Homo sapiens: one gene and its partners. The protein of the gene in region 2 interacts with the protein of the main gene of each other region in a biochemical or structural test. Each region holds a gene or a part of one and is shown on either strand. Other genes may lie near its edges.

Region 1 (7,107 bases), on a different chromosome or scaffold from region 2:
TCCAACAGAAGGAGGTTCTAGAGAGGAGGAAAAGCCTGCAAAGAGGGGGCCGTACTGGGGCCAGGCCGCCTAGGCCAGCATGTGGTCTGCAGTGGGGTACGGGGGCCTGAGGCCGTCGCTGTAGGTGTCGATGGGGTAGTCTCCATCCATGTCCATGTGCATCTCCAGCGGGTCAAGGGGCACATCGCTGGAGTACATGGGGCGGTAGGTGGCATCCATGTCTGGGGACAAAAAGTGGGGCTCGGTCCTAGGGTCTGCAAGCTACCCTGCAGGGAGCAGTCTGCACAGCCTTCAGCTGCCTCCTCTACCCATGCCCACCCCTGGTGGGCCTGACCCCTCCCCAGACCCCACACCAGGGCATCTAGACTGGGGTACATGTGGATGCCACACAGCAGTTGCCACTGGTCCTCTGGCCCCGGAGACATAATATTGTCCCCTCACACACACCCACACAGCCGCCCAGGATCTCCAGGGTCCTGAAGAGCCCGGCACACACTTACCATCTCCATAGGGCTCATTGATGGGAATCATGCTCTGGGCCTGAAAAAGGAGAGAGAAACATGGAGGGGAGGTTTGAAAATGCAGGCTCCGAGCTGGATCTCAGCTGGTGGGCAGGGAGAGATGCTTCTAAAAGAGGGGGCCAGGCTGGGTGCCATGGCTCACGCCTGTAATCCCAGCACTCTGGGAGACAGCAGGCGGATCACTTGAGGTCAGGAGTTCCAGACCAGCCTGGCCAACATGGTGAAACCCTGTCTCTACTAAAAATACAAAAAAAATTAGCTGGGCGTGGTGGTGCAGGCCTGTAATCCCAGCTACTCGGGAGGCTGAGGCAGGAGAATTGCTTGAATGGGGAGGCAGAGGATGCAGTGAGCCGAGATTACACCATTGCACTCCAGCCTGGGCGACAGGAGTGAGACTCTGTCTCGAAAAAAATAAAAAATAGGCTGGGCGCAGTGGCTCACGCCTGTAATCCCAGCACTTTGGGAGGCCAAGGCGGGCGGATCACAAGGTCAGGAGACAATCGAGATCATCCTGGCCAACATGGCGAAACCGCGTCTCTACTAAAAATAGAAAAATTAGCCGGGTGTGGTAGCGTGCACCTGTAGTCCCAGTTACTCAGAAGGCTGAGGCAGGAGAATTGCTTGAAACCGGGAGGCGGAGGTTGCAGTGAGCCAAGATCACACCACTGCACTCCAGCCTGGCGACAGAGCAAGACTCCATCTCAAAAAATATAAAAATAAATAAATAAATAAAAGAGGGGGCTGGAGAAAAGCAAAGAGGCCTTGGAGGAATAGAGGATGATGAAATGGGGTCACCCAGTGCCCTGATATACTCATGTCCTCGGTACTCCCCAGGGAGGAGGGTTCCCCACTCATGAAGCAGGGACTCCTGCCGGACTAGAGCAGCTCAGGGGAGGAGGCAGAGGACTCAAGAATGGGTACAGGGCACTGCCCCACCCTGGAAAAGACCGCCCATAGCCTATCCAGCACCTCCACGCAAATTACAAAAAGGCACCCCCACCTCAAACACTGTATACTCATTTGGGCAAAATAAAAATTGGCATTTTGTGGATATATGATTCAACCCACTACTTCCATCTGCTAGGAATTGTTATAAATGATCCAATTACAAAATAAAAATCTATGAAGTTGACAGTAGTAGGAGACCCCCAAAAGTGTTGCCCATGGGCAGTGCCCAACTTGCACAACCAACTACTGTGGTCCAACCTAGGATACTCACAGCCTCCCAGGCAGCCGGGTCATGCTTGAAGAGGGAGTTGGTGAGCTCCACGGACACGCGCTTCCGGTAGTCTGGGTTCTTGTCCTCGGAGATGCGGAACAGGACGGCAGCAGCGTAGGTGGCTGAGCAGAGAGGAAAGGAAAAGCCAGGTTAAACGTCGGCCAGCCTCCATCGTGGCTGGGGGAGTGGGACCCAGCCTCCTGCCCTCCCCCAGCTCACCAGTGCCCTCGTTGCGGGAGTGCAGCAACTCCATGAGTGGGGCCGAGGCCCCCTCTGCATCAATGGCGTCGGCCGCCTCCTTGTCCTGGGCCAGCTCACACAGCACCCCGGCAGCCACGCGCTGGATGTTCTCCACCGACGAGTACAGGAGCTGGGGAGAGGGGACGTGGGAAGCAGGGGAGAGGTGGAAAGGGGTGAGGCAGGCCGGACAACACACCCCACAGCACTGCCCACCTCCACCCTGTAGCAATTCCATAGTGGAAAATGGGCCGTCACTGGGGAGTAAGTGTTACTGCTTTAAACTGGGCTGAGCATTGTTCATGAGCTACCTTGAAATTACCTGTGACTCTGCCTCATCTAACCATTGGAATCTAGTGTTAATGAGCTCACTGATGTGAAAGATGTTAGACTCTTCTTGTCTGTTATGGTACTTGCACATATTCTCCCAGTTTGCTGATTTTTTAAAAATGCTTTTTTAGGTTCTTTCTGAAATACAGATGGTTTTCATGTTTATATGGTTGAATCTCAAGTTTTTTTGTTTTTTGTTTTTTTTTTCCATTTGTGATCTCTTTCCTTGCTTTGAAGCTTAGAAAGCCATGCCCATGCAGGGGGTTGCTAAGTAGTCAATCTGGAGTGGCAACTTTCCTCCAAACTCCTCCAAAGACCTCTTGATACCTGGTCCAGGCCTCCCAAATCTGGGACTCCTAACCTTGCCCTTTAAGCAGTGGTGGGGGGACCTCTCCTGCCCACCTGCCCCAGACTCACCTGCACAAACAGGGGAATGGTGTTGAGCCGGAAGATCTCCATGCGGTTCATGGGGTCCCGGGCGAGGATGTGCAGTGCTCCGGTGCAGCCCTCCACAATCTCCTCCATCCTCACACCATCCTGTGTGAGAGGAGGCAGGGGGCATGGGACAGGTGCCTTGGACATGGCCACAACTCCTCCCCATGACAGCCGAATGAACTTCACAGGTTCTTGGAATTGGCATCAGTTGCAACTGACCTCCCCATTCACACACACACCCACAGAGGACACCCTGACCCCCCAGGAAGGCTGTCAGAGGCACCACCAGCTCACATACCGTGTAGGGCTGCTGTGTGCCTGCAGCTACGTGGCGCTGGGCATCCTGGTGGGCCTTCACCAGCAGTTGGACGAGGCGGGGGATGACCGCTGCCTCCTGCAGCGGGGCATGGTTGGCTGGGCACAGGGCCAGATTCCTGATCAAGCCGATGGTTGCCTGGCAAAAAAAGGGGCAGTGATCAGGGGCACTTCTTGGACATCTGAAGGATCCCAGCTTCCCAGCTTCAAGTATCCCTTCCCTCCTTCACCTCTTCTGTCCCCGAGGCCAGACACAGACATACTGGAAAATATCCAGAGAAGGAGACCATCCCAGCCATGTCACTTAATCCACAGGATCTGGGAGTGCTCATGGCTAATTCTTTTTTTTTTTTTTTTTTGAGACAGAGTTTCGCTCTTGTCACCCAGGCTGGAGTGCAGTGGTGCAATCTCACCTCACTGCAACCTCCACCTCCTGGGTTCAAGCGATTCTCCTGCCTCAGCCTCCTGAGTAGCTGCGATTACAGGTGCCTGCCACCATGCCCAGCTAATTTTTTGTATTTTTAGTAGAGACGGGGTTTCGCCATGTTGGGCAGGCTGGCCTCGAACCCCTGACCTCAGGTGATCCGCCTGCTTCTGCCTTCTAAAGTGCTGGGATTACAGGTGTGGGCTACCACGTCCGGCTGCTCATGGCTAATTCTAATAGCCCTTGCTAAAATGACACCCCATTCCAGAACATCCTGCCAGCCCCATGCCTGGCCCCTCACCCTGTCCCCTCTTTCTTAACCACCCCCCACAGACACCATGACCTTGCTTGCTTTTCTGATAGTCCTCCAAGCCTGATTCTCAGGAATTCTGTGCTCTAGGTGCCCCCGAAGCCTCCTGCTTGGGTGGTGCTCACATTGTCATTAATCCCCAGCAGGGCAGCTCTGGAAAGAGGTGTCCTGAGATCTCCTCCCCAGGGTCTTTGACTCAGAGGAGCCACTCTGGCCTCCCAGAGCCTCTCAAGGTGTCATCTATTTCATCCTCAAAACAAGACGCCAGGAGGACAGGGATGAAAATCATGTGAGATGGGGACGTGAGCACAGGGCAAATGACTTGCCAAAGTCACTTGCCACTTAGCTGCTGGGTTAGGATGCAAAGTCCCACCTCAGGTTTGCAGCAGGGACCAAGCATCAAGGAGGGGTCACAATGACATTTTTTTTTCTAAACATGAATTTTCTTTTTTTAATTCAATGTATAGGCCGGGCGCAGTGGCTCACGCCTGTAATCCTAGCACTTTGGGAGGCCAAGGCAGGCAGATCACTTTAGGTCAGGAGTTCGAGACCAGCCTGGCCAACATGGTGAAACCACGTCTCTACTAAAAATACAGAAATTAGCCGGGAATTGCTTGAACCTGGGAGGCGGAGGTTGCAGTGAGCTGAGATCATGCCACTGCACTCCAGCCTGGGCAACAGAGCAAGAATCTGTCTCAAAAATAATAATAATAATAAAAAATAATAATTCAATGTGTAGAATCACTTAGAGTCATTCTTATCTGCACTGGGTTTTTTTTGTTTGTTTGTTTTTTTGTTTGTTTTTTTTGAGACGGAGTCTCGCTCTGTCGCCCAGGCTGGAGTGCAGTGGCGCGATCTCAGCTCACTGCAAGCTCCGCCTCCCGGGTTCACACCATTCTCCTGCCTCAGCCTCCTGAGTAGCTGGGACCACAGGCGCCCGCCACCACGCCTGGCTAATTTCTTTGTATTTTTTTAGTAGAGATGGGGTTTCACCGTGTTAGCCAGGATGGTCTCGATCTCCTGACCTCGTGATCCACACGCCTCGGCCTCCCAAAGTGCTAGGATTACAGGCGTGAGCCACCACGCCTGGCCATGTTTTTTGTTTTTGTTTTCCAAGACGGAGTCTCTCTCTGTCACCCAGGCTGGAGTGCAATGAGCGATCTCAGCTCACTGCAACCTCTGCCTTCCGGGTTCAAGTAATTCTTCTGCCTCAGCCTTCCGAGTAGCTGAGATTACAGGCACATGCCACCATGGCCAGCTAATTTTTGTATTTTTTGTGGAGGCGGGGACTTACTATGTTGGCCAGGCTGGTCTCGAACTCCTAACTTCAGGTAATCCTCCCGCCCCGTCCTCCCAAAGTGCTGGGATTACAGGCGTGAGCCACTGCGCCTGGCCTGTCTGTACTATTAAATTGTCTTAAATGTAGCTGGCGGATGCCCCTGCCAGCTGGCTCCTGTGCCCGTTGACAAGACCCTCATCGATGGTAGCTTCCTCACTCTCTGGCACCAGATGCCACCTTGCCTTTGGCTGCCTTCCTTGTCTCTACATATAGATATACACACACACAAACGCTTTCCCCCATAACTCTGTCCCTTGGGTCTGCCCACACCCTGACCCACTCTCACTTCCCCCACCTGACAGGGAAGTGACACACAGCTAGCTCTCTTCCACCCAGGTAGCCTCAAGAAGAAGACCCCACTCCTTCACACACCCAACTCCCTATGGGAGATGCTAAGCGTCCCCAGAATCCTCTGTGCCCTGTGTCTCTGTAGTGGCTCTCCTGATTTTCAGCAGGACACACGGCCATCTGGCTGGTGATCACACTTCCTAACCTCCTTGCACCTTGATGTGGCTGAATGACCAAGTTCTGGGGTGTGAGCAGGAGTGATGTGTGCCACTTTCTGGTGGCCGCTAGCCATCCCCAGTTCTCAGGGCTAGAACACATCCGTGGGGATGATACAGTCCACTCATTCGTGTGAGGACAACCCTCTCGTCTACACCCAGTGGCATAAGAAATGTGCTCCATGGAGCAGCACCTGCGAGCTTGTTAAAAATACAGAATTGGGCCAGGTGCAGTGGCTCACACCTGTAATCCTAGCACTTTGGAAGGCCAAAGTGGGTGGATCACCAGAAGTCAGGAGTTCAAGACCAGCCTAACCAACATAGAGAAATCCCGTCTCTACTAAAAAATGCAGGAGAATCGCTTGAACCCGGGAGGCGGAGGTTGCAGTAAGCCGAGATCGCACCATTGCACTCCAGCCTGGGCAATAAGAGCAAAACTCCGTCTCAAAAAAAAAAAAAAAAAGAAGAAATACAGAATTGTCCGGGCCTGGTGTCTCACACCTGTAATCCCCGTACTTTGGGAGGCTGAGGCTGGTGGATCACTTGAGTTCAGGAGTTCAAGATCAGTCTGAGCAACATGGCAAAATCCCATCTCTACTAAAAATACAAAAATTATCCAGACATGGTGGCGTGCACCTGTAATCCCAACTACTCAGGAGGCCAAGGCAGGAGAATCACTTGAACCCGGGAAGCAGAGGTTGCAGTGAGCCAAGAATGTACCACTGCACTCCAGCCTGGGCAATAGACATTGTCTCAAAACAACAAAAAAAAGACATACAGAATGGCAAGCCCTCTGCAGCAGGCCTGCAGAGAGACAGAGAGAGAGAGAGAGAGAGAGAGAGAGAGAGAGAGAGAGAGAGAGAGAGAGAGTGTGTGTGTGTGTGTGTGTGTGTGTGTGTTTTAGATTGTTTATTTGTTTGGGCTTTTTTTTTTTTCCAAATTTTTTGTAAGAGATGGGTGTCTCACTATGTTACCCACGATGGTCTCAAACTCCTGGCCTCAAGTGATCCTTCCGCTTCCGCCTCTGCCTGCACCTCCCAAAGTGCTGGAACTACAGATGTGAGCCACTGCACCCAGCCTCCTGTTTTTCTTTTCTTTTAAGACACGGGTTCTTGCTCTGTCACCCAGGCTGGAGTGCACTGATGCAATCATAGCTCACTGTAACCTCCAACTCCTGTGCTCAAGCGATCCTCCGACCTGAGCCTCCCCTCCCCAGTAGCTGGGACCACAGGCGTGCACCACCACACCTGGCTAATTTCTGTTGTTGTTATTGTTGTCGAGACAGGTCTTGCTATGTTGTCCAGGCTGGTCTCAAATTCCTGGCCTCAAGCAATCCTCCTACCTTTGCCTCCCAAAGTGTTGGGATTACAGGCATGAGCCACCGTGCCTGGCCCTGGAACCTGCAATTTAATGAAACCACCCAGGGTACTCATGTGCATTTTGAACTCTGAGCTCTGCCCTAGGGGCTGGTAGA
Region 2 (7,107 bases):
ATTTACCATTGAAGGTTATTTGTTCACAAATTCAGAAAACAATTGGAGATGTTATCTCCATCTAAGGCACTGCCCATTTATGGGTACTGCCACAGGGATGAATTTGACATAAGACTCTGGACTATGCAATCTACCATCAGGCACGAAAGATCTATGAAGTTCTCCCAAGGGTTAGTAAAGCACCTGTAAATAGCAGGGCTCGATTTACCTTAGCTGATATCCAATAACCTAAAAAACCTACATCATTGTTGAAATTCTCCGACTGGAAAAGAAACCTAACACACAACTACAGGTTTCAAGGCCGGGCACTGTGGCTCATGCCTGCAATCCCAGCACTCTGGCAGGCCGAGGCAGGCGGATTGTTTGAGCTTGGGAGTTTGAGACCAGCCTGGGCAACTAGTGAAACCCCATCTCTACTAAAAATAAAAACTGCAGGTTTCAAGAAGTTTATCTTCCGTATTTAAAGTCTTCCTTCCACATTTGTAACATAATAAGGACAATTTTTCTAGCATTAATTATTAGTAAACTGTGGATTACCATTTTACTTTTTATCAATTCTGAATTTCCCAAAACATGATTCCTTTATACCCAGATTTATGTCAAGCTCCAACCAGTTCAAATATGCATGGCTGATTTAACATACTATTCTGACACAATAGGACAATTTCTAGAGTATTTTCAGAGTAGGTAGATATTTTTCCATTTTATCACACCCATCTCTTCAGCATGAACTAAAAAGAAGTATTACACAGGATGAAAAGTAAACTTCGGTCCCATTTCTTTCCTATCAATTTGTGTTACAACATTTCTAAGACTTAACTATTACTTGAAATACCCAAGAGAAGTGGATTCAGATTCTCCAGATGTCCCTCTGCAAGCATCTCTCATGATTAAAATGAGCCAGTCCAACTTAATACATCTCCAATAACTAAGTTACTGAGCAACTGGCAAGCATAAGAATGAGAATTAAAATATGAGCCAGTCCAACTTAATACATCTCCAATAACTAAGTAAGTTACTGAGCAATTGGCAAGCATAAGAATGAGAATACTGACCACAAAAAAAATCTTCAAACACTGATTTTCTAGAAAGGCCTGCCTCTCTTTACCTAAAAAGCAGTAATGACCTACCTTGTTTTCGAACATCTTCTACAGCAGCCACAAGCTCCTCCTTGAGAAACTGGCTCTCCTTCGCAATTTTATCCCCCTTCTCCAAGAAATTCTCAGTTGCTTGTTCAACAGATGCAGCCAAAACATGGGCCTTCTTAGAACGACCTCTCTTCTTATTAGAGGGCCCTTTACTATTGGTGTTTACAAGGGTTGTAACCTAAAAGTTTCATTTTTAACATTAAACTGGAGTCAATTAAAATGACAAACTAATATCTTTAAAGACAGCAAGATTAAGTTATTCTTTTAAAAAATCACATGAGATTCCACTGAACATTAACATACAATTCCCCATATTTAAGATATACAGCAATGATGCTATATTTAATTTCCAAAATAATTCAGCTTTCTTAATGTGTACAGAGAATTATTTAACACATATTTTAATTTCTCAAATATGATCATTAGGTTTTTAGTTTGATTTTACAAATTAAAAAATGATTAGAGACAAGTTAGATGTCTCTACTATATGTCACCAAGATGTTCCAGAAAGAGGTTAACAATGAACTTAGCTTTATCTGGAGATCACACTGCCACTGTTTTCAAACTTTGCAAAACATTTTAAGATAATTTGCTTCTGAAGTCTTTTGACAGTTTATTCACACAAATCTCAGCAATTAGTAAAGGTCCCAATAAACGAATGATTGCCCAAAGAAGCCTACAGTGATGACGCTTTATGTCTTAGAACATTACCATCATTAATACACATAATACCAGATTATCTCTAGGTTAAAGATGATGAATATATGTTATAGTGTAAATTTGCCAAACAAGACTCATTTTCTCTCTCTCTCTCTGAATCTCTCACATACAAACAATAGACATACTATTGTAAAACACTAAAAGTACACAGCTAGTTGCTAACAGTTTATGAACTACCCTAACATTGTGACATTTGTAGCATACCAAACCTAAACCCTCAAGTTGAATTACCTGCTAATTAATCCCACACAATGAAAGGTGTGTTAAGCAGAGTGAGAGACCTTAACAATCAAGGATCCAGACTCCACCTTTCTTGGGTTTCCCCTCTGAAGAAAGGTGAAGTATCTGCAAAGCACAAACATTTGCAAAGTTGCACTACATACCATGGACCCGTTACTAGCAATAAGACTGAAGAAAACGACAGCAGCAGCGTTCTCAAGGGTTAACTAAACCCATGCATCAATATTCAAATCATCTAAGAACTGTCACCTAAACTCAAGTACTGGAATTAAGGCTTTGAACTAAATAACCTTGCTCTTATGGTTGTTACCCAGGCCTGTGCTATAGAACCATGTTACAATGTATTTGTGTTTTCAGATTCTTACCTGTGTAACAAGAGGCTCCAACAGTCTCTCAACTGCCAGAGTCCTGATCTCTAGACTTTTAGGATCCCACTTGAAGTTTATGTTGCCTGCATGGACAGCAGTCATTTCTAAATAAGAAACAAAAAGTCAGTCAGGCAAACATCAAACACAAACATGAAATATGTAACAAATCTTCTCCTACTTTGGGACTTTTGCATCAGGAAAGCTATATTCACTATAGATGAAAAAATTCTAACTAGCCTACACATGAAGACCCAGTAAACCTTACAACCTCTTAATATTTAATGATTTCAGGCTTACAAATAGGAGGGGTACTACAAGAGGGCATTCCCAAACACACAGAATGTTTCCCTTTGGGCTTCTCTAGCACCAAGACTTCCTACCTCAGTTCCTACTCACTTTATCTGCCCCACCTTTAGAAACAAGATGAAAAGCTAAAGTGAATGAAAGCTACTTTCTTTTTTTTTTTTTTTTTGAGACAGAGTCTTGCTCTTTCGCCCAGGCTGGAGGGCAGTGGTGGATCTCAGCTCACTGCAAGCTCCGCCTCCTGGGTTCACGCCATTCTCTGGCCTCAGCCTCCCAAGTGGCTGTGACTACAGGGGCCCGCCACCACGCCCGGCTAATTTTTTTGCATTTTTAGTAGAGACGGGGTTTCACCGTGTTAGCCAGGATATGATGGTCTCGATCTCCTGACCTCATGATCCACCTGCCTCGGCCTCCCAAAGTGCTGGGATTATAGGCGTGAGCCACCGCACCCGGCCAAAAGCTACTTTCAAAGACACTGCTTCAAAAACGAATACAGAAGATCCTGATTTTTCCTACTCCACAACATTCATGGTACAGTAGTATCTAAAAGGTATGCTTCACTTCATTTTTTGATGGATTCCTAGAGAAGGACTTGTCTTATTCTATTAAAACATAATGTTTAAATCAGCTGCCCTCTGCACCCACAGCTATTATCACTCATAGCCAGAAGAAATTTCAAATCACACTTAGTCAAATATCACTGTATCAGTGTCAAGAGAAACTTCTGTCAGACAGCGGCTTTAAGAATAGGGAGAAAACATCAACGAAAATAACAGTTAGTCTTTTCTTCTAAAAGTAGTGCCTTCAATTATTAAAGAAAAAAAGAAAAGAAAAGGCATGAAGCTGAGGTAAACACTAATATAAACTTTCTAGACAACAAACTGCTGGTAGACATTTAAAAGCTTAAAGGCTGGGCGTGGTGGCTCACTCCTGTAATCCCAGCACTTTGGGAAGCCAAGGCGGGCAGATCACCTGAGGTCGGGAGTTCGACACCAGCCTGACCAACAAGGATAAACCCTGTCTCTACTAAAAATACAAAATTAGCCAGGCTGGTGGTGCACGCCTGTAATCCCAGCTACTCGGGAGGCTGAGGCAGAAGAATCGCTTGAACCCGGGAGGCAGAGGCTGCAGTGAGCCGAGATTGTGCCATTGCACTCCAGCCTGGGCAACAAGAAAAAAACTCCATCTTAAAAAATAATAATAATAATAAAAATTAAAAAAATAAAATCTTGGCCAGGCGCAGTGGCTCACGCCTGTAATCCCAGCACTTTGGGAGGCTGAGGCGGGCAGATCATGAGGTCAGGAGATTGAGACCATCCTGCCTAACACGGTGAAACCCAGTCTCTACTAAAAATACAAAAAAAAAATTAGCCAGGCGCAGTGGCGGGCACCTGTAGTCCCAGCTACTCGGGAGGCTGAGGCAGGAAAATGGCGTGAACCCCAGAGACGGAGCTTGCAGTAGCAGAGATAGCGCCACTGCAGTCCGGCCTGGGCGAAAGAGCAAGACTCCGTCTCAAAAAAATAAAAAATAAAATAAATAAATAAAATAAAATCTTTAAAAAGTACATTTGTATGACCCAGAAAATCTACTGCTAAAATCTTATTCTAAAGTTAAGGAACATGTAAAAACTGGGATACAATGATGTTCACAACACTGCTTTATATAAACATTAAAAGTTATAAATTACCTAAATTTCAAACAACAGATCACTCAATAAATTATGTAACAATGACACAACGGGCTACAATGTTACTCTTAAAAACAATGTTGGCAAATTAAAAAACAAAACAACCAGCCTGGCCAACATAGTGAAACCCCGTCTCTATTAAAACTACAAAAATTAGTCCAGTGTGGTGGTACACGCCCGTAATCCCAGCTGCTCAGGAGGCTGAGGCAGGAAAACCACTTGAACCTGGGAGGTGGAGGTTGCAGTGAGCCAAGATCGCACCACTGCACTCCAGCCTGGGCAACAGAGCAAGCTCTTGTCTCAAAAAAAAAACAAAAACAAAAAAAAACCAGTGTTATCAGTGCCCAAGTATTTATTTCTATTAAATACCATTTGCATGGTGGTTCATGCCTGTGATACCAGCACTTTGGAAGGCCAAGGCAGGAGGATCACTTAAGCCCAGGAGTTTGAGACCAGCCTGGGCCACACAGAGAGATCCCATTTCTACTTATTTTTTTTTTAAAAAACGGACCATTTCCCATTAATAGAAACCAAAGTTCCAGGTCTGAAGCACTGTATTGTGCGGAAAGGGGACAAGACTAACAAGATCATATCAAAAGACACAGGAAGCAAGGGCTCCCATCAGCCAAATTTAGGACAACTATCAAAGAGAATAATGACTGTAACTGTCTGTAACTAAATAATTAAATAAATATCCTTAAGACCATAGGGATCCTCAAAAGAAAGGGTATGGGGAGGGAATTTCTTTACCATGAATCTAGAATAGAATTAGAAAATGACCATCTTGCAACCCCCACTGGTAAAAACTGATCCAGCCAAGGATTAGCAATGAATGTCAAAACTACTGGGTGAAAACTGGCCAGGCATGGTGGTTCATGCTTGTAATTCCAGCACTTAGGGAGGCCAAAGTGGGTGGATCACCTGAGGTCAGGAGTTCGAGACCAGCCTGGCCAATGTGGTGAAACCCTCTCTCTACTAAAAATACAAAAATTAGCCAGGCGTAGTGGCGGTTGCTTGTGATCGCAGCTACTCATGAGGCTGAGCCAGGAGAATCGCTGGAACCTGGGAGGCAGAGGTTGCAATGAGCCGAGATCATGCCACTGCACTCCAGCCTAGGCAACAGAGCAAGATTCCATCTCAAAAAAAAAACGTAACTTTGAACTAGATCCCTCATAAAAGACTACCAACCACTGCCTTCTTCAGAGAGCTTTAGTGGAGATTAGATAGAACAAAGTATGATCCATTGACTAATGCATGAGTCCATGCTAATATGAATAAAGAAGGAAAAGTTCTTCCAAACAATAGGAAACAAACTAATAAATGTAGAAAGAACAATGTATTTAGAAAAATCAGCATTCAGGAACCATAATATTAATTGCCTCAGGCAAGAATCAAAGAATGCTAACCAAGTAGATTAGCATTCAGTTTCTCAGTAGCGTGATCTAGTGTCATAGTAACTCCCAACAGATTATTTATTTATGACAGATGGGGGAAATAGTAACTTCACAGTCCAGAAACCTGAGATGCCACCTTAACCAAGTAATCAAAATTACTGTCCCTAATAAGGACACAAACCCACATCACGTATCTCCTAACACGATGCACTGAGAAGGATACAACATCACCTCTGTGTTATTTCGCCTGAAAATTACATAACCTCAACTAGTCATGAGGCAACATCAAATTCAAAGCGTGAGACGATCTACAAAATAACTGGCTGTAGTCTTGAAAAATGTCAAAGCAGCCGGGCGCGGAGGCTCACGTCTGTAATCCCAGCACTTTGGGAGGCCAAGGCGGGTGGATCACGAGTTCAGGAGATCGAAACCATCCTGGTCAACACTGTGAAACCCCGTCTCTACTAAAAATACCAAAAAATTAGCCGGGCGTGGTGGCGGTCGCCTGTAGTCCCAGCTACTCGGGAGGCTGAGGCAGGAGAATGGCATGAACCTGGGGGAGCAGAACTTGCAGTGAGTGGAGATGGTGCCACTGCACTCCTGCCTGGGCCACAGAGCAAGACTCTGTTTAAAAAAAAAAAAAAAAAAAAAAAGACAGATTAAGAAACATTTCCCCTCCCCCTCTCCCTCCTCCCCCTCTCCCTCCTCCCCCTCTCCCTCCTCCCCCTCTCCCTCCTCTCCCTCTCCCTCCTCTCCCTCTCCCTCTCCCCACGGTCTCCCTCTCCCTCTCTTTCCACGGTCTCCCACTGATGCCGAGCTGAAGCTGGACTGTACTGCTGCCATCTCAGCTCGCTGCAGCCTCCCTGCCTGATTCTCCTGCCTCAGCCTGCCGAGTGCCTGTGATTGCAGGCGCGCACCGCCATGCCTGACTGGTTTTTGTATTTTTTTGGTGGAGACGGGGTTTCACTGTGTTAGCCGGGCTGGTCTCCAGCTCCTAACCGCGAGTGATCCGCCAGCCTCGGCCTCCAGAGGTGCCGGGATTGCAGACGGAGTCTGGTTCACTCAGTGCTCAATGGTGCCCAGGCTGGAGTGCAGTGGCGTGATCTCGGCTCGCTACAACCTCCACCTCCCAGCCGCCTGCCTTGGCCTCCCAAAGTGCCGAGATTGCAGCCTCTGCCCGGCCGCCACCCCGTCTGGGAAGTGAGGAGCGTCTCTGCCTGGCCGCCCATCGTCTGGGACGTGAGGA
Region 3 (7,107 bases), on a different chromosome or scaffold from region 2:
TAGCCCAGGCTCTTGGTCAAGGGCAAAATGAAGGTTAAGCCACAACTGAGGGCTGCTGCTGCTGAAACGTTTTATCATATCCAGGAGTCTAGACAGCATCATCTGCTTCCAACAGCTTTGTGCAGTTGCAGCACTGGGGACATAAAAAGAAACCGAGGAAGCAGCAAGGCAGCTGCATGCCTGCCTGAATGCACACATCCCTAACAGCCAAGCCCGCCTGCAGGAAACCAGCTGTGTGCATCTAACATGGAAGTACATAGGATATCTTATTTACAAAATACTCAGAGTTAATATTACAAAAAAAGGAAATTCTTTTTCCCTAGGTTATGAATGCTTTGCCCAATTGCTGTTTCTCATGCTCATTTAAGGAGGGTTTGGTGGATTTATTTTTCTTTTTTGCAGCTGTTTTAAAAGCAACAGATACAAAATTATAATTAACATAAGTTATTCTCTATTCCACAATACCACCCTAGAACATATAGTTCAGCCTGGGAATCAGCTCAGAAAAAAAGATTGGAAGTGGTAAAGACAGGAGCTCAATCTTTATTGGAAACAGAGTAATCCCCTCTCCACCCATCTTATTTTAAGTCAACCTGACCAGGGGTCCCAGGAAACCCTCTCAGATGTGGTAAGCAAAGGAATATTTTTCCTTTCCAACACACTTGAAGGCCAGAAGAGAGGCAGAAAGGAAGGGCTTGTTTTTTGATTACATCAGTCTCACAGCAAGCCCTTAAATTCAACCCAAACTGGAACAGGGGCTAGTGATTGATCCAGTGGCTGGCCCAGACTGGCCTGTGCTAGTGCATCCAACCCCTGATCTGCCCCAACCTCCAACTTAAGTAACCGGGGCAAGGCAAGAGTAAGGAGTGAGTCAAAGAGTTAGGGTCAAACAGAGTCCACTGGCCTCCAGCCGGGGAGGAAATCTTTCAGACAGACAGACAGACACACACACGCACACACACACACACACGTAAATAAAAAAATAATTTTAAACAAGAAATGAAGAAAGTGTATCCAATCCTGGAGATGCCCTGGCAGAAGAGGAAAATAACCTTTGCTCTTATTTACCTCTCCATCATGAAAAAGATCCTATTACAGCACTATCCAAGCCAATTTTCTAAAAAAGTCCAGGTAATGTTCCTTTGTAGCTTTGCCAGGTACTCAGAACAAGCAAGCTTCACCCTCCCTTCCCACTCTCCTGACAGGCTTCTTTCTCATGGATGAAGGGGAACACGGGCTTGGCTGGGAATACCTGGCGCCAGGGGTCCTATCAGGTGACACAAGCGTGTGTTAATCCTCAAAGGGCATGGCTTACACCTGATCGCGATGCAGCACTACGGCTCTTACAGGTCCTCGGTTAAGAATTAGCTTGGCTTCTCAGGCTTTCTTTCCTTTTGTGGACACTTGTACATGTCTCACCAGACCCACATTCTCAGGCAGTCATGCACAGCTCACTAATTTTCTGTATGGGTAGATGAACTTCTGCTGGGCACCCATATTCTGCCCACTGGGAAATTTATACCTAAACTCCCAAGGGCTTCTGGCCAATGATTCAGAAGTTTGAGAGCCCCAAGGTGCAAGGCTCCCTTAAGAACCTCAGAAAACTGTACCTGTCATCAATAGAGTCCACCTTCTCCTGGATGCGATCTGAGTTGATGTTCCCATCGCTCACCAGCCTCCGGCCAGTCTCCACCACAGCATTGATCTTCTCCTCATTGGCGTCCATGGTGGTCATGAAGTCCTCTTGCTTTTTAATTGCTGCTTCAGCTCCTTCCAAGGTGGTAGGCATTTCAGTGTGAGCCAGAACATACTCCTTATTTAAAAAGAGGAACAAATCATAGCAGATCAATGAAGGATCTCATTTTCCTGTGTTCTACATTTCCGTGCAACATAGTTCACAACACTTTCTTCATTACACTTACATGAAATAATTAAATCACATCAAATTAAAAGTTAGGAGGAAAAAAACCCAGTGGGACACTGTAACTGACCGAATTTCCCTCAGGGGTTAATGCTCTAAATTTTTTTTTCCAAAGAGAGTGAGGAAAGGAACCAAAGCTTTGTGTATCAGCCTCAAGGGTCCTCTCACGTGCCTATCAAGGCAACAGCAATGTACCCTTCATACTCTCTCTTTGAGACAGTAACAGCCCTGAAGTTGGTGACTATCCTCAGCTGTTTTTATTTCTCTAATCTCTACTTTGTGTCCTCAGGTGAAGTCCCTGACCCTTCTAGAGCAAGAAGACAGACTGGTCTCAAGAAAAAAAAAAATCCTCACCGTACTTTTTTTTTTTTTTTTTTTTTAAGAGACAGGGTCTCACCCTGCCACCAGGCTGGAGTGCAGTGGCACGATCACGGCTAACTTCACCCTTGACCTGCTGGGCTCAAGTGATTCTCCTGTCCCAGCCTCCCCAAGAGCTGGGATTACAGGAGTGAGTCATCATGCCTGGCCCTCACTGTATCTTTTAAATTGGATCAATACCTCAATTATGAAGACATACTATGAACACATAAGAGATCCTCAATGGCAGTTGAAATCAAACAGTACTTTGTAAGGCAAAGCAGCTCTTATGGCAACTTTCAATTCCTGTCCCCTACAACGTGATGGATTTCAATGCCTTAAGAGTATGGGGAAAAAAAAATCAGTCTCTAAATTATCCATATAATTCCATACAGGTGTGGTTTAAACCAGCTGCCCCAGCCAAAACATTTCAAAAGGCAGCCAGGGCTGCTTTCACCGAAAGGAAGCAAAGGCAGGAACAAACCTTACCTGGTTGTTAAGAAAGGCTTCGGCTTGCTTCGTGTCTCTGAGGAACTGCTGGTAGGCATGTGACTGGGATAGGAGATTTTGTCTGTTCTCCCACATCTTGTGGAGCTCGTTCCATCCAGTGTCCAGGGCCTGCAGCCGCTGCCGCAGAAACATGTACTGGGCATCGGTCTGCCCCTGGGTGACCATCTCGCCCATGTCCCTCATCTTCTGGTAGTCCTCCTCGTAGTTGTCGATCTCGTTCTTGATGTTCTCGTGCTGCGTGAGCAGCTTCTCAGCCTCGGTCAGGGTGTTTGGCATGTCCTCCGAGGCGATCGCTGTCTGGGTCCTAGAGAGCCAGGACTGGAAGTCGTCCAAGTCCCGTAGGAACTGCTGCAGCTTGCTGGCCTCTCCCAGGGAGGCCTCTCGGTTTTTCAGGGTGGTCTTCATCTCCTCCCACACGTCGCTGATCTCGGCCAGCCGAGACAGGATGGCCTGGGCCTGGTCGGGGTGCTCGGACTCCAGCTTCTCCGCCTCCTTCTGCAGGTCACTCAGCTTTGCCTCAATGGCCACCAAGTCCCGCTCCATGCCGGTCAGCTTGCGCTGCAGGGCCATGACGCCAGCCAGGTCATTGCCCAGGTCCTGGGTGGACTCGATGACCTTGGTCTTTTCCCGAATCCAGGATTTGGTTTCATTGCACTCGAGGTGGTAGTTCTGGATGCTCAGGGCAGACAGGAGGGCATCCTTCTTCCTGTCAACCAGTTCTCTGAACTGGCTCCACCTGTGAGTGCAGGGGCAGACAGCGAGTGTGAAAAAGGGAAGACTGACCATGGCTGGATTGCAAAAGGAACAGTGATGGGTTAATGCTGCTTATCTGTTTTCTCCATCTGTGCTTTGACTACATGCTTTTTTGGAAAATCATCTCACTCAAACTGTGAACACCAAATATAATGGAAATAGCTCAGGGATGCAATGTAATCTGGAAAAAGCCTGTCACGAAGAGGAATGTGTTACAGAGCTCCAATGTGAGCAATTACAAGATATCCATTCCCAGAGTCAATTAATTCATGTCTGTGACACATTTTACACATCTCTGAACTCTACCTAATGAACGTTTTCCAAATCTAAGACTGATGGTAACCTTCAAAACTGGGGCCAGGTGCCATAACCTACTCAAACATGTTTACTCAACAGAAAGATAAGACTGGAACAAAGGTCTGCCCTGACAATCAGGACTTTCATTGGCAAATTAAGTGTTAAACATGCTAGAGTCCTGTTCCTGAAGTTACTATAAAATGGATAGCACAGGTGTCATCTTAATACCTTCTACACTGGACACAGGTCAAACCAAGGCCCTAACTTTGGTGTGGCGAGGGGCAGATGCTGGGCTGACTCAGATAATCCTCCTGCAACCAATGATGTTGCCCTGAGAGACACTTCTTACAAAACAAGGACATGTCAAAAGGCAGGTGCCAATGCCATGACATCAGTGTTGCAATGTCGATGACCCCATGTGGGAAATTCCCAACAGCAAAGCTCGATGAGTGACCTCACCCTCCCCAGTCCCACACGTGGGAGGCTGGCACACTGCTGGCCACGTGCTCACCTTGTGTTGAGTTTGTCCTGCTGGGCTTTGATTTCCTTCTCACTTGGGTGGCCGCTGTGCATCAGCTGGCGTGCAATCTGGTTCACCACTGCAACCCGGGAAGCCTGGTTGTTCATTTCTGGTTCTAGGCTCTCAAATCTGAAATGGCAATTTGACAGGGTGGTCACCTCCTGGGCCACTGGTGGTCACAAGGAACAGGCCAGTGGCTGACCAGCGCCCCGCTCACCTGTGCTGGATGACCTCCAGATCCTCCAGCTTCTCTGGGATCTGCATGTTGTTGAGCCACTGCTCCTTCTCGTCGATCCAGAGCTCACAGGCATCAGCCTCGCTGAACATCTTGTACAGGGCCAGAGTGTCCTGGAGTGCCTGCTTCCGCAGCCGCGTCAGCTCTGCCACCTCCTTATACCGCTCCTCGATGCCCGACAGCCTGCCCCTCACGTCTGGAGACTCGGCATGCTCCTGGGGGAGGGCGCTGGCTTGTTCGTGCAGCGTGTCAAGGGTGGGCCTGTAATTGGCGATCTCTTCCGCCACGTCCTTGTGTTTCTTGACCAGAGACTGTGTGGAATACTCATCGTGGCCCACGTCGCTGCTGGAGACAATCTTGAGGATGTCCAGCATCCAGGCATCAATGTCATCAGCATCTGCCTGGAACTGGTGCAGCAGGGAGGCCTCCTCCAGGCGCTTCTTCCGAATGGCCGAGAGCTGCTCTAGGTTGGCCCACTGCTCCCGGATGTAAATGATCCTCTCACGGATCTTCTCCGACCCGAAGTGCTCCTCCGCGATCATGTCTTCGCCTTCCTTGATGGCCTGCTCAAAGTGGCCACTGCGGCCGCTCATCTCGTCCTCGAACGCCCGGTGCTTGCTGAGCAGGCGCATGACGCTGGTCAGGTCTTTCCCGTAATCGTCCGAGGACAGGATCTTCTCCTTCTCCCGTATCCAGCCTTCCTCTTCTGCCATCTCCCAGAAGAACTTCCAGAGGCGGCGGGACTCTTCCAGACGGGCCCTGCGCTCAGCCGCCAGCTGGCAAAGCTCTTGATAACAGAACTCCATGTGGGCCACGCGGTCTCGGATCACCTGGGGGTCACAGGGCTTGTAACCTGTTTAACATCAAGGAAGGAACGTGGCTGTGTGAGGGAGCTCAGCATGGGTGCAGGCTCACTGGCAGGCAGTAAGCTACACCCCATATTCTTATGATTACCAGCTCACTGCTAAATGTAAATGCAGGGCCATGCGATAAGGCAATGGAGCACCTTCTAACAACTTGACTAGAACAGGAGTGAGGGCAATGATAAACATTATTTTTTTTTGGCCAAACCGCAGACAAAGTGATCATCCTCCTGCAAGAAAGCACTTGAATCATATGAAAAAGGCAGCTGCATATAATTGTTTCTAGAAATACACGAAGCATAACCAAATCATTCTAAACATCCTCCAAAGAGAGGTATATGCAACCAGCTGTGAAAGCCAGGAGCTGCTGGAACAGCCACACCAGGGTGTCGGTGCATGGCCAGAGAGACTGAGGTATGACAAAGTCTCACTGCCAAACACCAAGCCACTCAAAGCAAAGGCAGCATTTGCGTATTTAAGGAAAGGATGTATCAATTCCAGAAAAACAAGATGGAGTTAGTGTTCAGAAGGCCACTCCACCGTATTTCATGCTCCCATGACAAACCCACCAGGAATGTATAGTGGCACAGTAACTTCAAAAGCCCCACTGTGTTTCTATAAATATGAATCTCTGGTGACCCGGAGGTAATGCTTGGAATGGGCCATCCTTACCTTCCCCGTCTGTTGCGAACTTCTGGGCGGAGGCATTGACACCTCTCACCCGCTCTGCCTGGATGCCAATGTCTGCTTCAACCAGGGTGTGCTTCTGTAACAGGTCTTCCACACCAAGTAAGTGTTTGCCATAGTCTTGAGACAATACTAGCACCTGTGCACAAGAAGCAACCAAAAGGACATCTGTGACTATAGCCTTGACTTCAGCATCACATCATCTTTCGACAAGCAGAGAGCCAGCAATGAAGCTATGCCTTCCCTCTAGTCTGCCATGGACCCCACACCTTCAGGGGAAGATGATGGCCAACAAACCAGAACAAAACAAATCATACCTGAAGGCCTGAGTCAGGAGAGCTATCACAAACTAAGGATCACCAAACTTGGAATAAGTAAGTCAAATCTACACTAAAAAGTGCAGAATAGAAGAAAAAGATGGTGAGGGCCAGCGGGGCCAGGGTGGGGGGGAGGGGGCAGTGGGGAGCGTGGGCGGGGGTGCTGTATGAAAGATTCCAAAATATAAACTGGAGCTTCAAGAAGAAACCGCTGCAACAACTACTCAAAAATAAATAAATAAAGGTGATAGACTTGGTCACTTCAAAGTTGAAAGAAATCTTTTAGAAGTTGCTGAGCCTGTAAGTGAATGTTTTTCCTCTGTTAGGAGCTTATTGGTATGCCTCTACTGTACTTACACAATCAATGGGAAAACAATCTACTTGAAAAGCTTACAAGCCACATCTTTAAACCAATAAGGAGAGCAGGGTCAGGTGGCTGTCTTGCTTAGTAGACCCCAAGCAACTTCTAGAGTTTAAGTTTGAACCCACTGATATTTTCTTGTTTCTTCCATCAACCAGCGAAATTTGGGGGCCTCATTCTACATCCTCGCCAGATGAGATTTCTACTTCACTCTTACTTCTGAGGAAGTCTCTGGACCAACTGAGTTACAATGTGCATCATGATTTATAAAATGAAAAGTCCCTCT

The links.
Region 1: the proteins of CTNNA1 (region 2) and JUP form a complex in vitro, tested with the Homo sapiens proteins (2 studies listed by BioGRID).
Region 3: the proteins of CTNNA1 (region 2) and SPTBN1 form a complex in vitro, tested with the Homo sapiens proteins (one study listed by BioGRID).

What each region holds. Positions count from the first base shown.
Region 1 is NC_000017.11:41,755,675-41,762,781, forward strand, and holds part of JUP (junction plakoglobin), read right to left. Parts: intron 3,197-7,107; coding exon 3,041-3,196; intron 2,845-3,040; coding exon 2,725-2,844; intron 2,111-2,724; coding exon 1,960-2,110; intron 1,863-1,959; coding exon 1,741-1,862; intron 541-1,740; coding exon 501-540; intron 222-500; coding exon 70-221; 3' UTR 1-69. UniProt on the Homo sapiens protein: Common junctional plaque protein. The membrane-associated plaques are architectural elements in an important strategic position to influence the arrangement and function of both the cytoskeleton and the cells within the tissue.
Region 2 is NC_000005.10:138,777,396-138,784,502, reverse strand, and holds part of CTNNA1 (catenin alpha-1), read right to left. Parts: intron 2,581-7,107; 5' UTR 2,579-2,580; coding exon 2,474-2,578; intron 1,327-2,473; coding exon 1,131-1,326; intron 1-1,130. UniProt on the Homo sapiens protein: Associates with the cytoplasmic domain of a variety of cadherins. The association of catenins to cadherins produces a complex which is linked to the actin filament network, and which seems to be of primary importance for cadherins cell-adhesion properties.
Region 3 is NC_000002.12:54,627,272-54,634,378, reverse strand, and holds part of SPTBN1 (spectrin beta chain, non-erythrocytic 1), read right to left. Parts: intron 6,283-7,107; coding exon 6,129-6,282; intron 5,447-6,128; coding exon 4,576-5,446; intron 4,488-4,575; coding exon 4,350-4,487; intron 3,525-4,349; coding exon 2,768-3,524; intron 1,814-2,767; coding exon 1,611-1,813; intron 1-1,610. UniProt on the Homo sapiens protein: Fodrin, which seems to be involved in secretion, interacts with calmodulin in a calcium-dependent manner and is thus candidate for the calcium-dependent movement of the cytoskeleton at the membrane.